2 separate regions of the Homo sapiens genome follow, and region 2 is linked to region 1. Evidence: fine-mapped expression QTL. A gene starts in region 1. The other region holds a variant in brackets. All regions are shown on one strand. Distances are from middle to middle.

Evidence for each region. PIP is the estimated chance that this variant, and not a neighbour inherited with it, causes the effect. A credible set is the group of variants that fine-mapping cannot tell apart.
Region 2: its variant is the best candidate, but not a certain one, in a credible set for the expression of BNIP3L in cerebellum (GTEx, PIP 0.85).

Annotation. Positions count from the first base shown.
Region 1 is chr8:26,380,668-26,385,053 of GRCh38, forward strand. BNIP3L (BCL2 interacting protein 3 like) reads left to right here and starts at 2,387. Exons shown (of 6, transcript NM_004331.3): 1 at 2,387-2,563. The coding sequence starts at 2,464. It also overlaps the pseudogene SDAD1P1. RefSeq lists enhancers at 864-2,063, 2,037-2,336 and a silencer at 2,547-3,136.
Region 2 is chr8:26,463,595-26,467,980 of GRCh38, forward strand. No RefSeq gene overlaps it. Among named protein-coding and RNA genes, the nearest start is that of PNMA2, 48 kb to the right of the region's middle. RefSeq lists an enhancer at 4,009-4,058. The variant C/G (reference allele first, on the strand shown) is at 2,657.

The DNA.
Region 1 (4,386 bases):
CTTGTTTTGGGAACTTTGTTCCCTGTAGCATACTGTGCTAGCAGGTCTCTTGCTGTTGGTCCGTCATCCTCAGATTCGGAGTCACTGGCCTGTTTTTCATCTTCATCTTTTCCAAGAAAGAATGTCAAAGCAGCAACTAATATCTTGGTGACCTAAGAGAAACATGCAGTTGTGATAACATTGACAGTTTTGGTATCATTCCAGATGTTCCTTCTGTAGAGTTCAATCATAACATCTAAAGACATCTTGGCTGCAGTTGCATTGCTATCTCTCAACATGGTATACATGAAATTTTACAATACTACATCCACTTTATTCTTGTGTTTTGCATTTATATTCTTGATATCAGTCACGATATATGTGTATGAAGTCTTTTGCAGAAGCTTATCATGGCAACAGAGAAGTTCAAAGAAGAGTTCTAGCAGGCTTGATGGATTGATGAGATTCTTATTTCTCAGCAAGATCAAAGCTTTGCAAAATGTCATTCGAAGATCTGGATCCAATACAGTATGATTACAGGACAGAAGATCTTTCACCACTTGAGGAAAATTACTTAGATACCCTGGGTAGCAGTAACTAATCTATAACAAAGCAAAGGCTCTTCTGAAGTTTCTCTCTTTCTCTCCTATTATTCAGATGCACATATTTAGGACGTTCTGTGCCATAAACACCACCAGCTCTGCTAGTTCTTTACCGGGTTTATATGGTTGCAATTTGAAAATCTCCACATTGGATGTGTAGTGATTATACTGCTGTAGAAACTCCTAGATGGAGGGTGGTGGGTCTCGCTTCATCAGATTCTGTAACTGCAGTCAGGTTGCTGGGCAGCTTGTTGTTGTTTCTGCTGGACATTCTGGCTGAAGACTGGCTTCGCGGCGAGCAGTTTTAATAAAACTCAGATGGCCAGCAGCCGCCAATCCCTACCAGCTGCGGCTTGAACTCCTGCTTCCGGGTATGACCGGAAACAGCACTCAATCTATTAATAGAGTTCATTTCTGACCAAAATCTTAAAAGAATTTGCAAAGGGATTTGACAAATCAATCCTTAAAAAAAACCTTTTAGCATGGACTTTTTCAAATATATTAAAAAATTAGAGGAATACTTTAATGTATTACATAGCTTCAATAATTACCAACACAAGGTCAATCTTGGACAAGTCCATTTTTAAGTTCATCTGAAGAGTAACTAGCCATTAACATCTGAAAAAGACAAAGGAAGAGAAACTTTAATAGTTATCTAACAGAGGTATTGCAGATAGCCCTGAAACAGACTCACATTTTTGTGGTCATTCAGAGAGTGACAAAGGTGCAATTTCAAATCAGTGTAGAAAGGATGGCTTAAAATTAATATTATTAGGTCAATGGGCTACAAAATTGGGAAGAATTGAAGTTAAATAATTTACAGCATATGGAAAATAAATTTCAGATGGATTAGAGCTCTAAATGTAAAGTTAAGCCTATAAGAAAATTAGAAAAAGTTATAAGGGAATTATAGATTAGTAATCTTGGTGTGACTGTCTCCCCAAGCCATGTAAGAATGATAAATCTGATTACATGAAAACCTTAAGCTTCTACAGAGTGAAAAAAACAAATTAAAAGACAAGTTAGAGACTGCGAGAAACATATGTCACTCATAAATCAGACCAAGGAGACTGGACGAAGACATGGAGATGTGAAGTAGGAGGTGTGCTCAGGAACATAGTTTAATGTCATCCACGTACAGGATAAACGGCTTCCCACGTCATGTCCCAGAAATCGATTAGTCGATGGGATTTGGGTGAGTACTTTCTTCTCTCTGTTTTCCTGAATTTTTCTTTTTTCTTTCTTCCCCTTTCTTCTTTCTCTTTTTTTCAGAATGATGGTGTGTTTGTAATCGACATTTTAAAAATTCTGTAACAATTAAATTTGGGGGCGGCCTTCCCTTGTTTCCCGTATGGAGTGTTGATGTTTCAGCAGCTTTATTTGGAGTTTACACGTGGAGGCACCTGGGTTTGGGGATTCCTTTGTGTCCCCAAGACACCTATTGCAGAAGTGAGTCCTAAGAGGTAGAAAACAGATGCGTGCGCAGGGCTGGGTGAAGCACTGTGGAGCCTGTGTGAGAGGAGGCACGGGCGCGAACACAGGAGCGCACTTCCTCATTCCGTTTCTCCTCATCCTCTCTCCCACTGCCACTGGCATCACTCATCCCATCCGGTCATCCCAAGTCACACGCAAGAGTTCGTTCCCGGCGCGCGCGTCAGCCTGACTCGAGCGTCTCCACGTCCGGGGCCCGCAGGGGAGCGCCCCTGCCCCGTCCGGTCGCTTGTTGTGTTGTCATCACGTGGCCTGGGCGGGCCCTGACGTCAGGGGCAGGGGAGGGACGGCGCAGGCGCAGAAAAGGGGGCGGCGGACTCGGCTTGTTGTGTTGCTGCCTGAGTGCCGGAGACGGTCCTGCTGCTGCCGCAGTCCTGCCAGCTGTCCGACAATGTCGTCCCACCTAGTCGAGCCGCCGCCGCCCCTGCACAACAACAACAACAACTGCGAGGAAAATGAGCAGTCTCTGCCCCCGCCGGCCGGCCTCAACAGTGAGTGCGGGGCCGAGGCTCTGTGAAGGGGATGGGGGAGGAGGAGCAGCCCCGGCCGCCGCCACCGGCGCGGCGCGGGAGGCGGGAGGAGAAGGCAGCTCATTGGCTCAGGCATGGGATGTCCAGGTGACTGACAGCTCCCGTCCCCTGTCAAGAGGAGGGGCGCCTGCCTTGCTCCGGGCCTCTCTGTTGCCTCCTGGGGTCTTGGGCCCGGGGCCGTTTGGGCTCGCGGTCCGGGAGCGGCGCGGGTAGCGCGGATCCCCCTGGTGCGGGGGGTGGTCCCCAGCAGCGGAGCCGGGCGGGGCGGGGCGGGGGCGGGCCTGGGGGGCGGGGAGGCCGGGTGGGCGGAGCGGGCCGCGGAGGGGACGTGGGCCGGGATGGGGACGTGCGGCGGGGACGCCGGGGGATGGACGCGCGGGAGCGGGGCGGGGCGGGCGGCTGCCGCGGGACGTGTCGGGGATCAGGTGTGCGGGGCTCGCGGGCGGGCAGCGTCTGGCGGGCGCGGGAGCCCCCCAGCGAGCATTCCTTTGTTGCCACACGTTTGTCAGGAAAATTCATTTGCTCGTCTAGGGTTGGCTTCAGTCACGTGTGGGGTGAGAGGCTGTGCCTTGCTTCTCCTTTTTCCTTTTTTATTTTTTTATTAGATTTCTCGAAGTTGCCCAAGTGATTTTTTTTTTTTTAAAGCGATGGGTTGTGCGCCCAGTAAAGCTGAGAGCAGCCTCCTGAACCACCCAAGATTGCACACGTCAGGGAGTCTGGGGCCATGCATTTAAAGAAACGGAATTAAAAACGCACTCGGGCAGTTGAAAGTTAACGGACGAGGCTGATAGACAACCCAGGCCAGGGTCTTTTCATAACATTCCGCTGCCCAGACATCTTGTCCTCAGATTGTTCCTAGTCGTGAGAACCGGGAGCCTTCTTGGAAGGGTTCTTGCCTAACCTTTCTTTAATTCAACTCTTGGGAAAGAGGTAATGGGAGCAGTGAGCATATGGCCAGATGAAGTCTTTTCAAAACCACTTGGATGCTTAAAGGTCATGCAGTATCTTTCGTAAGAGGGAGGTGCTTCCAGTGTGGCCTGAAGATTATTTTAGGGAAGAGAGTTTCAGCCCTCACCAGGTAGCGATGGAGTTTGGAGATTTTAAGATGGATGCTGCTGCTCCAGGTTTTGATGGGTTAATTCCCAAAACCTTTAAGTGTCATATATTCCAGAATGTAAGATGGTTATATTATTTCCCACAGTAAATTAGGATGAATGTATGAGTCTTTAAACGTTACTTGTATCACATATTCCTATGCAATTTTAAGTTATTTGCCCATGTTTAGCATACTGTCTTAGATTTTAGAATGGGAAGAAACTTCAGAGCTAGCTAACTGCCTCCTGTTGTTTGCCTGTAGAGAAACAGGTCTAGAGTAAATGGCCTTGTCCAAGTTCACAACCGGCTGGGAGCAAAGCAGAGGTTCTCATGTTCAGCCTGTCTACTGCTCTTTTGAGGACATTTTTTTTTTTTTTTTTTTTTTTTTGAGGTAGAGTCTCGCTCTGTCTACAACCTCCGCCTCCCAGGTTCAAGCGATTCTTCTGCCTCAGCCTCCCGAGTAGCTGGGACTACAGGTGCCTGCCACCCGCCCAGCTAATTTTTGTATTTTTAGTAGAGACGAAGTTTCGCCATGTAGCTGGGATTACAGGCGCCCGACACCAAGCTAGGCTAATTTTTGTATTTTCAGTAGAGAGGGGGTTGTTGGTCTCTCACCATGTTGGCCAGGCTGGTCTCAAACTCCTGACCTCACGTCATCCGCCCGCCTGGGCCTCCCAAAGTGCTGGGAT
Region 2 (4,386 bases), 83 kb after region 1:
CTGGCTGACTTCACTTAGCATAATATCCTCAAAGTTCACCCATGTCGTGGCATGGGTCAGAATTTCCTCCCTTTTTAAAGGCCAAATACTATTCCATTGGGTGGGTAAACCACATTTTGTTCATCTATTCATCTGTTGATGGACCTAGGGTTGCTTTTGCCTTTTGGCTATTGTGAATGAGGCTGCCATGGACATGGTGTATTGGAAACCTCCTTCATAGACATCAATTGTTGGTACTTAGTGAAGAACAAAGACTTTTGTTAAGTTTTAAATATTAGGAAAAGAGCCCAGGAGTTCAAGATTAGCCCTGGTAACATAGTGAGATCCTACCTCTACACAAAATAAAAAATTAGCCAGGCATGGTGGTGGCGCCTGTAGTCCCAGTTACTCGGGAGGCTAAGGCAGGAGAATGGCGTGAACCCAGGAGGCAGAGCTTGCAGTGAACTGAGATCGTGCCATTGCACTCCGGCCTGGGCGACAGAGCAAGACTCTGTCTCAAAAAAAAAAAAAAAAAAAATTAGCCAGTGATAGTAGCATGGGCCTGTAATTCCAGCTACTAGGGAGGCTGAGGTGGGAGGATTGCTTGAGCCCAGGAGTTGAGATTCCAGGGAGCTGTGATCATGCCATTGCACTCCAGCTGGGGTGACAGAGCAAGACTTTGTCTCACAAAAAAAAAAAAAAAAATCTGTCAAATGAGTGAATGACTAACTGGACCGTCCATGGGGTCCAAGACAAACTTCCTTAGCTCAGGAAAGGAAGAACGCCATGGAGGGTCCAGTTAGTTATTCATCCGTTTGACAAATTCTTTTTTTTTTTTTTTGAGACCTAGTCTTGCTCTGTCGCTCCAGCTGTAGTGCAGTGGCGTGATCTCAGCTCACTGGGTAAATGACTCGGGCACTTACCCAGGCTCTAATTCTAGCAGGACTCTTCCTGTTTTCTTATCGCTCAGCTGGTGGAAATGACACCAGCTTGAGCCAACCTCACCAGGTGTCATGAGCAGGAGCATCCAGGGGACCATGTAAATAAGTGCTGTCCCAATGGATGTCATGATTGTCCCTTACCGTGACCTCTCCTCGCAGCACCAGCCCTGCATCTACCAGTAACCTCCCACCTTTGGGCACCTCTCAGAACTCAGAACCTCTCTGTGAGCAGCCCTCCTTTCTGCCTTCCTCTTTCCTTTCTCCTTATTAAATCACTCTTTTCTCAGTCTTTTGTGCTGGAAACTCAAGTCATATCTAGCTTTTCTCTCTCCATGGCCTCCCCTTTCCTGCTCCAAGTCTGGCTGCTTCTTTCCTTTCATGGCCCTCATTTCCTGGGCCGTCACCTCTAGGCAGGAGTCCCTCCCTCCCGTGTGACCATTGTCAAGGCCTTGACCGTCTTCTGCCTCTGGAGTTTCCTGCCCCACCTCACCAATGTGGCCAGAGAGATCTCCCAAAGTGCAGCTCTGACCTCATGCCCCTAATTCAAAAATAACTGATGGGCTGGGCACGGTGGCTGACACCTGTAATCCCAGCAATTTGAGAGGCCAGGGCAGGTGGATCACCAGAGGTCAGGAGTTCGAGACCAGCCTGGCCAACATAGTGAAACCCCCATCTCTACTAAAAATACAAAAAATTAGCTTGGCATCGTGGTGCGTGCCTGTAATCCCAGCTACTTGGGAGGCTGAGACAGGAGAATTGCTTGAACCCAGGAGATGGAGGTTGCAGTGAGTCGAGATTGCGCCACTGCAGTCTAGCCTGGGTGACAGAGTGAGACTCCGTCTTTAATAAAAAGAAAAAAATGACTGATGGATGAACCAACTGCACATAACCTCCTCTCTGGCTTTCCAGGGCCTCCCACCCCCTGGTCCCTCTGACTATTAAGAGGGACCCTCTTGGCCCCTGCATTTCTTCCCTCCAGCCGCAGTCAGCCCCCTGCCTCTCCTGAGCGTGTGCTGAGCATCTGCCTCCCTGCCTGTGCACACTGTGCTCCTCTGGCTGGATCATCAATTCTCTCTCCTCCCTGCTCTGCTGAAATCCTTTCTATGCTTTAAAATGCAGCTCAAATGCCCCACTGTGCTATTTCTATGCTAAATCCACACTCCTCTCACTGTACACACCACGTCGGCTCAGAAGTGTTTGTTTGCATTCCTTCCTTGGCTTCCTCACTAGACTGAATTCCTGAGAGTGGAGAGGATGTGTCTTGTTTCCACTCCCAGCACTGTCCGGTCCAACCAGCGAGAAGTGATTGCTGGTTTTGGGAGACTCCTTGCTCTCCTTCCTTCTTCGCCCGGGTCTTGGGTGCTGACCTTATGAAAGGGCAGCCTGGGGTTTTTCTTGGCATCACCAGCACATAGCTGGGTTATGCACACAGCACGTTGCCCAGTTCCTGGCTTGGAGGGAGTGTGCTCATGTTTGATGGTTACAACAATGGATGGGAACCCATAGCCAGTGGCTTCGATGCCTCTGTCCTGATGGGAAGCTGAGAAGGAATTGACGGTACCCTTCTTTCTTTTGGGTCACTACCGTCCTGCAGCTTCAGCGTTTCTTTGTGCTGGAGCAAGTGCAGTTGCCAAGACCGCAGAGGAAGGGGGTGGAGGAATGGCCTCAGCCATCTCAGAGGACGGCACTTGTTGCCCCCAGTGCCACTGGCCAAAGACCTTTTCAATTACACCAGA[C/G]GCATTGGCTCTAGGCAGCCTCAGCTTCCTGTCACCACGGACTCTGTTTAATGTCTCAGCTGGACTTGGCTGCATCAGAGATTGCAGGGAATATGGCTGGTCCACTTGGGTGGATTTGCACATGGCCATCCTGTACATGTGCCCTTCTGCCAGCCTGGCAGCCTCTCCCTTCGTCTGCCTTTTCCTTGGAAGTGCATCAGCAGGGGGAGCTGGATCTATCCTCAACCTAATGGAAAGCAGACGTCCCCGCACGCAGAGGAGCAGGCTGCCTTGCAGGGTTTTTCTGGAATAGCTCAGATGGTTGTTATTTTATTCATTGGAATGGAGATGAATTGCTAAATGTACCAGTTAAATGTGATTTAAATTGTATATCTTTGTCAAGTTTTTCACATAAATTCACTCATTAAAAAAAAATTCTTTGCACAGACATTTGCCTTTATTTTTGTGTTCCATGAGCTGGGGAGACAAAATGTTCTAGCTGGGAAGACCATTTTCTGTTTCTAAACTACATGAAGGTTTGCCTTTAAGACATTAGACATAAGACACTAGAAGGCTAAAGTCAGCCTGTTTGTGGGCAGCCTTAAAGCATCCCCAGAGGTCCTTGTTAAAGAACTAGTAGGTCCTCATATAACCATTTATTTTATTTTATTTTTATAATTTATTTTTTAAAGGCAGGGTCTTTCTCTGTTGCCCAGGCTGGAGTGCAGTGGTGTGATTGTAGCTGACTGCAGCCTTGAGCTCCTGGGCCCAAGGTATCCTCCTGTCTTAGCCTCCATAGTACCTGGGACCACAGGTGTGTGCCACCATGTCTGGCTAACTCCCATATAACCATTTCTTCCCTTCCAATTTGCCAGCACTTTGACTATCCTTGTTTCATGATCCTCAGTTCCCATGTTGAACTGAAACTTTTGTATTCCTCACGTTGTTTTATTTTCTGTATTTGCTGATGATTTGGCATCTGCGGCCTTGCTGATCTTGGAGAGACCACCTTTCCCGGGGCCAGCTAATTCCTGGAGATGGTAACCACTTGCCTGCAAGTGTGCCTTCCATATTGGAAACCAGCCAATCCAAGGTCCACACCCCCACCTGTCTCTATGACAGAGGATGAAACTCCGGGCCTCTGCCCTAACTACCCTAGGGCCAGGTATGAGGAAACTAGGGGCAGCTCCTATGCTGCAGAGCCCACTGGCAGTCCTCAGCCTGCTCGCCCTGCCTTGCCTGGCCGTTACCATGGAAACCACAATAAAGGCTCTTGCTGGTGTTTCCAGCCTCTCTCCCTCCCCCTCCTGACCCACCCTGGTGCCTCCCCATGTGACCCTGCGTGGTGTGCCGTACTTCCTCTTTCTAGGGGTCTGTGAATATAAAAAACTTCTTCCCTCATGACAGCAATTTTCATGTTGCATGTTAAAACAAATCCTGGGTGTAATTTGCAACAACTTTTGACCTCTCTTCAGCTCAAATCTTGGTAATGACCACTCAAACTTACAACGGGACTTGGCTTCTTGTCCGTGGCCCTGACTCTTTAGCCAGAAAGTGAAGCTATCATCTTGTTAACAGAAAAAAGGTCCCGATCCAGACCCCAGGAGAGGGTTTTCAGATCTCACATAGGGAGGAATTCAAGGTGAATCACAGAATGCAGTGAAAGAAGCAAGTTTATTAGAAATTCTCCATTGCAGAGCAGGGTGACCTCAGAGAGCAAGCGGAGGAACGCACCATCTTTAAGTTTTTCT